Linked DNA regions of Homo sapiens: region 2 is linked to region 1. Evidence: fine-mapped expression QTL. Tissue or cell type: unexposed skin. Region 1 holds a variant in brackets; the other region holds the start of a gene. All regions are shown on one strand. Distances are from middle to middle.

Evidence for each region. PIP is the estimated chance that this variant, and not a neighbour inherited with it, causes the effect.
Region 2: it holds the start of CLDN16, and the variant in region 1 is the best candidate, but not a certain one, in a credible set for the expression of CLDN16 in unexposed skin (GTEx, PIP 0.59).

The regions. Positions count from the first base shown.
Region 1 is chr3:190,331,316-190,335,566 of GRCh38, reverse strand. It overlaps a transcript of CLDN16 not described here. Among named protein-coding and RNA genes, the nearest start is that of CLDN1, 11 kb to the right of the region's middle. The variant C/T (reference allele first, on the strand shown) is at 2,144.
Region 2 is chr3:190,386,264-190,390,514 of GRCh38, reverse strand. It overlaps CLDN16 (claudin 16), which reads right to left and starts at 2,352. Exons shown (of 5, transcript NM_006580.4): 1 at 2,072-2,352. The coding sequence starts at 2,185. RefSeq lists an enhancer at 3,801-4,095.

The DNA.
Region 1 (4,251 bases):
ATGTTTTTTGTATTTTAGTAGAGACAGGGTTTCACCATGTTGGCCAGGATGGTCTTGATCTCCTGACCTCATGATCCACCCGTTTCGGCCTCTCAAAGTGCTGGGATTACAGGCGTGAGCCACTGCACCCAGCCAGGATAAACCTTTAAAGAGGCAAGAGTAGCAGAAGAGTACAAAGGAAGAAGCTAGATGAAGATGTGATTTCAGAAGAATTCATCCTCAGGGCCAGGTGCAGTGGCTCACATCTGTAATCCTAGCACTTTGGGAGGCAGAGGCGAGAGGATCACCTGAGGTCAAGAGTTCGAGACCAGCCTGGCCAACGTGGTGAAACTCCGTCCCTACTAAAAATACAAAAATTAGCTGGGCATGGTGGCGGGTGCCTGTAATCTCAGCTACTAGGGAGGCTGTGGCAGGAGAATCGCTTGAACCTGGGAGCCATAGGTTGCAGTGAGTTAAGATCGTGCCACTGCACTCTAGCCAGGGCAACAGAGCAAAACTCCATCTCAAAAGCAAACAAACACAACAAACAAAAAAAAAAAAAAAGAAAAAAGAAAAGGAAAGAAAAGAATAAAAAGAAAAGAAAAGAAAAATAAAAGAATTCATCTTTAGACTGAACCCACAACGAGCTCTGGAGTACAAATTGTTTCCAGAGATTCTACTGCCTAGATGCAAGGGGGCAAGGCTGTTCCACCATTGCATAGGTCAACCACCGCTTACCAGCCACTGGTGAAGAGGAAAGCTGCATACCTTCCCAGGCATCTCTAAGTCACATGGCTCTCACTAGCCAAGGGCTTTCCTCATTGCTGCTAACAATGCAATTTGCTAGTAACCAATACCTGTAGCACCTGGGAGATGGGTTACCCTCCTAACAAAGAAGATGACGTGGTGGTTACCAACAACATCTACCATTCCAGTTTCACTTTTCTCCTGTGCTCTGACTTTCTAAAGGTGCTTCTCTTTGGCCAAAGCCAGAGAGCAAGAGAGACTATGAATGCAAGTGGAAAGATTCAGTTGCTGGGGAACAGACTGAGTGGAAAATGTTGCAGAATGGATGTAGAGGAGCACACACAAAAAATTGTCCAGTGCTTGTCCACAAATCATTCAGTGCTTGCACACAACCTAAGAGATGAAGCTCAAAGTCTTTAGCATAGTGGGCCCTTCTCAGTCTCTTTATTCCATTTTGCAGCTTCATATTCCATGGCTCCCTACCTGATATAGCATATACTCCAGTCAAATTTCTTATCCTTCCACTTCTCAAATACTTTTCCTCTTATCTGATATTGCTCTCCCTAATCTGAGTACATCCTTCTGCTAGCCCACTACAACTTCCCTCATTGTGCTAAACACACACGTATAGTTTTATCCTAACAACAATCACTCTGTACTCCAGTTTGCTACAAGTTATTTCTCAAATAGATTTTTAATTACTTGAGCACAGGAATGGCTTTGTTTTTGCATCATTTTGGCAGAGTAGCAATAAATGAATGAATGGAAGAAATCATGAATGATTCATTCATGTTCTTCAAGATTCCACTTTAAGCAATATCTTTTTAATGGCAACTCTAGCCCCTCCTCCTTGTCTCAAATTTTAGATGCCACTCTACCCTGATTCCATAATACTCTTTACCTAAAATTTTCATAAAATTTACATGGTTCTGTGACAATGTTTCTGTCAGCTGCATGTTACCCCTCACCCCATTGAAGTATGTGCCTTTTATCACAGTATTTCCAGTGCCTTGCAAATAATACACCTTTGAAGAATATGAAAGATTAATAAATGATTGAATGAGTAAATGTGTGTAATAGAGAGTGAAAAATCATAGAATTTCAAGGAGGGACAGCATACTTTTCTTTTTCATTATCAGAGAAAGAACTCCACGTTATGATAAGATTTTAGTAAGTGTGGCATGCACAATGGGCTGCTGAACATTAGGCAGAATATCATAGAAAGATGAAAGATCAGTAGATTTATAGAAAGATGATTGATAGATAGATAGATAGATAGATAGATAGATAGATAGATAGATAGATAGATGATAGACTGATAATTGTTTTAGCTACATAGTATTCAATCCCTATAAGGGAAAATATCCTACTGGTATTATATAAAATTTTATCCATAGTTTTTGAGTAATAGTGCATA[C/T]ACTTAAAGTACTTTAAGGCACTCAAAATGGGTAATTTGTTAACATACTTACAGTGCCATTGGCCCAAATATTTCTAAGAATCTGAATAAGTCTTAGAATTAATACCCTTTTAGGGAAAATAAATTATTTTAACACACCTTGATCTGAAAGTTGTGGATCCTTAGAGTTCCTAAACCTGAGGTCTATTTCATTTAAAATAGAATGAAATTACCTAATTTTATTGAGAAAATTCCTTTGTCTCACTCTTTGAGTTACCGCATAACGCACATGCTAATGTCTACCACAAAAAGAGTCTCAGTTGTTTATCAACCTTGTTGGGTGTAAAGGTTTATTTGGGTATGGTCTGATAGCTTTTGACAGAGATGTAGCTCTTCTAATGGCAGTAATATTCTCCTTTTTCCCTAAACACCTGACTACAATAAAGCAGGGGGATAAAAATTTGCTTAATCATGTGTACGACTAATAATTAATGTCAGTTTAACCCAACTGGAAATACAATGTTCCCTTCGTATTCCTCCTTCAATCTCAATCCTTAATAAAGCAAAGTGTATGCCATCAGTTTCTGGGCTCGGTTTGACTATTTTTATTCAGTTTCTTTACTATCCAGTCTCTTAAGCCATAGTATGTCTTGTAACAAAAAAAAAAAAATCATGCTCTGCTATACCTGATTAAATAATCTTTCTTTAGTCTTCCAAGTCATATTATCTTGTTTAATTTTCCAGTAATACACAGCAATTCTGTATTACTCGATATTGTGCTTTTGCATAATCTTATCTTTCTGCTAACTTAATTAATAGTGGAAAAATTTAAGTGTCGGAGGAGACCTTAGAGATAATTTTAATCTGTTCTCCTTTTATCTACCTGAAAAATTTAAATCCTTAGAAATTGCACAGGTGAGTAAGTGGCTATGCCAGGAAGAGAACCCCATTTTCCCAATTAAGATTCCATGTCTTCATTTATCCCACACTCCTACTTAAGGTGTTATTAATGTCTCTCTTTACTCAATCATGAGTTCATGCATATAAGCTCTTAAAATCTTAGCCCTTACTGTCTGGTGCATATTAAGCAAACTATTAATATCTTATTTTTATTAATTAATTTCATTACATATAATCAGAACTTTTGTTAAATTCAGAAATATGTGAATAATTATCTGCAATATATTTACATAGCCTCTTTCTACAAGGAAAATCAATGTACTTCATAAAATATTTACTCATGATGGTAGGTAGAATAATAACCTCCCTCTGCCAAATATATACATGTCTTTATTCTTCAAACTCAGAGATATGTTATATTACATGGCACGATGGGAATTAAGATTGTTCATCAATTGATCTTGAGATGTGATTATCTTGGATTATCTGAATGAGCCCAATGTTATCACAAGTGTCCTTATAAATGTCAGAAGGAGGTAAAGAGAGTGAACCAGAGAAATGGCTTTGTGAAAAGCATTTGGCCCATACTTGCTGGCTTTGAAGACGGAGGAAGATGGCCATGAGCCAAGGGATATAGATCCCTCTAGAATGTACCAGGACAAGGAATGGAGCCTCCAGAGAAGTACATAGGCTTGTGGACATTTTAATTATAGCCCAGTGAGATCCCTTTCAGTTTTCTCAACTACAGAACTGCAAATAACAAATTTGCTGTTTTAAGCCACTAAATTTGTGGTAATTCATTACAGTAACCACAGAAAACTAATAGACTAATTTTTAGAGAGATATTTTAAAAATTTCAACAGAGACTATCCGTGTAGTCAAATACATTTTAGAACTGTGACAAGAACACTCTAGTAGTGATGAACAACATAAGTACGTGAGGTGGCAGAATGCTCTATATCTGCATTGCCAGTATGTAGTTACTTGAAATTGTCAAGTACAACAGAGGAACTGAATTTTTAATTTTCATTAATTAAAATTTAAATAGCCATGTGTGACTAGTGGCTATCAAGTTGGACAATGCAGTTAGGGCCTAGATTATAACTAAATGCTACTTTCTATATCCTGCCTAGGATTCCAAAGACAATTTTTACCAAATAATACTGTAGCAAATAATAAACAAGCCTTTGGCTGTTCTAAATCCTGGAGCTGTGTTTAGTAAACTGTGT
Region 2 (4,251 bases), 55 kb before region 1:
GTCGCCAGGCTGGAGTGCAGTGGCACAATCTCGGCTCAGTGCAACCTCCTCCTCCCTAGTTCAAGCGATTCTCCTGCCTCAGCCTCCTTAGTAGCTGGGACTACAGGCCCCTGCCACCACACCCAGCTAATTTTTGTATTTTTGTTAGAGATGGGGTTTCACTATGTCGGCCAGGATGGTCTCAATCTCTTGACCTGTGATCTGCCCGCCTCGGCCTTCCAAAGTATTGGGATTACAGGCATAAGCCACCATGCCCAGCCTCTTCCTTTAAATGTGAAGGCTTCTTGGGAATATTATAGCAATACATTTTAAGTATGGGAAATAAGAAGGAAGCTAAGAAATATTAACTATTTTTCAAGGTTAGCAAGGGTTTACTTGAGGTGTGTAACCTGGACTGCTCATTCCATTCGTTTTAACTAGAAGTATTCTTTCATGGGACAGATGGCAAATTGGTTGGTTATACTAAAATGAAAGAAGACACTTTAAATTCCAGGACTCTCAATCTCTCTCTCAGCAAGGTTTGACCCTTTCTAAAACTATTTCTTATCAAATGAAGTTAGCAATTATGTCAGCTTAAGCAGAAAGACTTTTAAATTGTTTTAGAAAATATTTTAACAATGCCCCTAGATGGGATTTTACATTTTTTTGTATTTTAAAAAACATAATTATAATTATGCTCAAGTTAAACATATTTCTGTATTCATCACCTACCACTGGCCATCTAGATAATGGCAAACTAATGACAGCAGAACGTTTTATCTGCACTTTTCCCTGAGCACTGTTCAAAGGGCATTTATTTCATTCTTTGCATATATTCATGGCCAGATAAAATGCATCACTGGGCTCACTTATAGCAGACATCCTTTACAGTAGTTCAATTCTATCACAATTTTTGGAAATGTAATTTTCTAGCATTAAAGAGGTATTCCTAACTCCATTGGTTTTGAAATGCCATGTTCAAGTCAGAGGCAAATTAAAAGCAAGAAAAAGCGAGCAGCAAAAATAATGCACAGCAAAATAGAATCATTATTACTTTCCATTTGGAACTCCAATTTGAGAGTTTAATAAAGAAAATTAGAAGAAAAATATATAAACTCAGTCGAGTATCTTTCTTAAACTTTATAGAGGTGACATTATAGCATTTGCTAGGGTAAATTGTTCCCTTCAGGATGCACATTAAAAAGCAAATTGTTTTGCTATATACTCCTTTTTTTGAGCTCTTGAAATATTGTTTCTTTTTCTTACCTGTGTTTTCCTAAGCCTCATTAATGAACAGCAGCTAATTCTGAAGATTTGATTTTTTACTCAGTTCTGCCTCTCTCAGATTCCTATGGCCACAGGTAATGGTTTTGAACTTCAAAATTACTTCTTTCTGAGCTTCTCCAGCGAGAAAAATAAAATCCTCAAATGTGAACCCACTCACTCATCTTTTGAATAGTAGTCAGTTCCCTAGAGCAACTCATTTTAAGGGAGGATTTAAATCCATGCCTGTCCCCCGTACATTGGGATGCACTGGAAAGACATTTTCTCCCTCAACATTTTTTCTTTTACTTGGAAATCATTAAGATAATGTTTTTTCCTCTTGCATGTTAATTGGGTAGGTTTTGCATGCCTTGCATTTTCTTTCTCAACGTTTTAGATTATTAACACTCCTTAAAAAAAGTCTATCACACTATTCTTAATGCTGTCATCAAGAGTAAAAAATTTATCTTAGAAAAAAGGGTGGTACTGAAATGTTACTCAATATGATATATGCAGCAATGGAAGACGTGAATTTCTGGAGGTCTCAGTAGCAGAGATCACTTAATTACCCTTGTGGAAATTTATCCTTGTGAAAAAAGGAGGAACTATTTAGTAACTTCATCTGTTTAATGGGATAACAAGACCTACCTCATAAATTAACTATGAGGATTAAATGAGCTAATAATGTAAAGACTCAATAAATAGTCCATGTTGCCTATTTTTGGTATCATTAGCCTTAGTAAAGATACTGAATGTTGTACATGGCAGTTGGGACTTAGCGAAAATTTGGGCTGGCCTGGATCATGAAAAGAAGCTGCTATCTTCTTACCTCCAGAGAGTCATCAGCATTCACCATCCAACAGTCAGTCCAGGTGGCCACAATCAAAAACCCAGCAGAGAAAAAGGCAAAGAAGCAAGCGATGTATTGAAGAAGATCCCTCATTGTGGCAAGCAGCCCATCAGGATGGCAACATGGGCAGACACCAGCCCTGGCCCCACTTAAGTGGCGGGTGTCAGTCTTCTGTGTTTCTGGTACCTGGCAATGTGAAAATACTGGTCTTTTACTTTTTCTCACGCCCTGCTGCAGGTGTCTTGAGTTGCAGTAAGAATAATACAAACAGGCTGTAACCAACAGTGGGGTCCTGGAGGTCATTATCCGAAGCAACCAGCCTCCAATCAGAAGGCAGGTCAGTGCAAGGGCTGAGTGTGTTTCGGGTGGGGGAGAGAGGAGTTCTGTAACGTTTTCTGACCCAACTGTGGGCTAGTGGTGGTCACCAGACCAAGTGCCAGTGCCAAGACGGGGGAAGGAGGAAGGGTCCCACCCCATGCTGGAACCTGTAAACTGATCTTTCTTAGGCCCTCTAGGGAGAGTGAGCTATTCTCCTCCCCACTCGGAAGAAGGCTACACGGTTGACTGAGTGTTATTTTATTGTTAGGACTATTTTAATATTCGCCGACTACTTTAGACAGACAGGCCACTGGTGAAACTATGCTAAACAAGTGCTCGCTCAAGGGAGTCTGCATTCCAAAGTGTTGCGTAGAACAGCCCCATGAAGGACTTGTAGCACCTGGGCAGTAGGGACAGCCAAGGCTCCTAACCTTTCAGCATCGTAGAGTGGGAACAAGTGTGCATTTTAATGCAGACAGCTCTGGGTGGAAATTCTTGCTCTGAATTTATGGTCTGAGAGCCCTTGGGCTGTAGTTTCTGAAAATGCATGTATTAATATTTTCTTTATATAATGCTTGTTCTTCATATGAGGAATAAAAGATATTGTGCCTGTAAGTCGCTTAGAATAGCATCTGTCAGTAATAGCTAAATGGAAAATATTAACATGACTAAGAATTTCCTATATTATTACTTTTCCCTCATGGACCAATGTTTGAAAACGCGTCTAATGAAGAAAAAAAAACTGTTATATTAGGAAGAAAGTGTGTTTCTTTTTTGTAAAAAAAAGTTTTTAATATGTAACTGGGGCAACTGGAATTTTATCTGTATCTGAATAGGTATCCTTAATGGGTCTACAAATTCCATAACCAATACTCTTTAATATGCTTTAAAAAGCACATATATCAACATTTTCTCTTCATCAGGTAGACTTCTATATACTAAAATAAAAATTTTGAATGAGAACAGTAAAAACAAAGTGGTGATTCTTAATGTAGGAGAGAATGTCAAAGGGGAGACAGAGTGAGAGAAAGAAATTGGGAGGGAGAGAAAGAAAGGAGCAGAGAAAAGGCCAGAAAGAGGTAATTACTCTGGCATGAATCAGCTACTAAGATTCTTATTTTACCAACAGCTTATAAAAGGATTACTTTTTTCCATTTGAAAATTATTTGATCATAATATACAGTATAAAAGGCTAAAATCAGTATTGATAAACCATTTTTCAAAATATATTACAATAATAAACTTTTTGTGGCTAAACTTTGTTTTTTCTAATTTTAATTCATTTTATTCAAGTATATAAAACGTAAATTTAAATGTAAAAGCTGCATGGAAAACCATAGGTGGAATATAAGCTTAATTATTTCTATACATAGGGTCTACAGTACCACCCCTGCTATCCAGAATTTCCCTTTTGAGGCTTCAGTTACCAGTGGTTAATCATGGTCTGCAAAAATTACATGGGAAATTTCATAGATAAACAATTCATCAGTGGTAAATTGAACACTGTTCTGAATAGCGTGATGAAATCTCAAGCCATCCCACTTCACATGGGATATGAATCATCCCTTTGGCCAGCATTTCCACATTGTATGCACTACCCACCCCTTAGTCACTTAATAGCTGCCTCGGTGATCTGACCTACTGTTGCGTATAGTGTGTGTAGGATCCAGTACTGTCCTTCGTTTCTGACATCCACTGAGGGTCTTTGAACATATTCCTCAAGGAGAAGGGGTGATTACTGTACACATTAGCGATCGTTATAACTATCTGCGAGGTACATTACAGATGCTTTTATTTTACTTATTTTGTTTAACAGTTGGAAAAAAAATACCTGTTTTTTA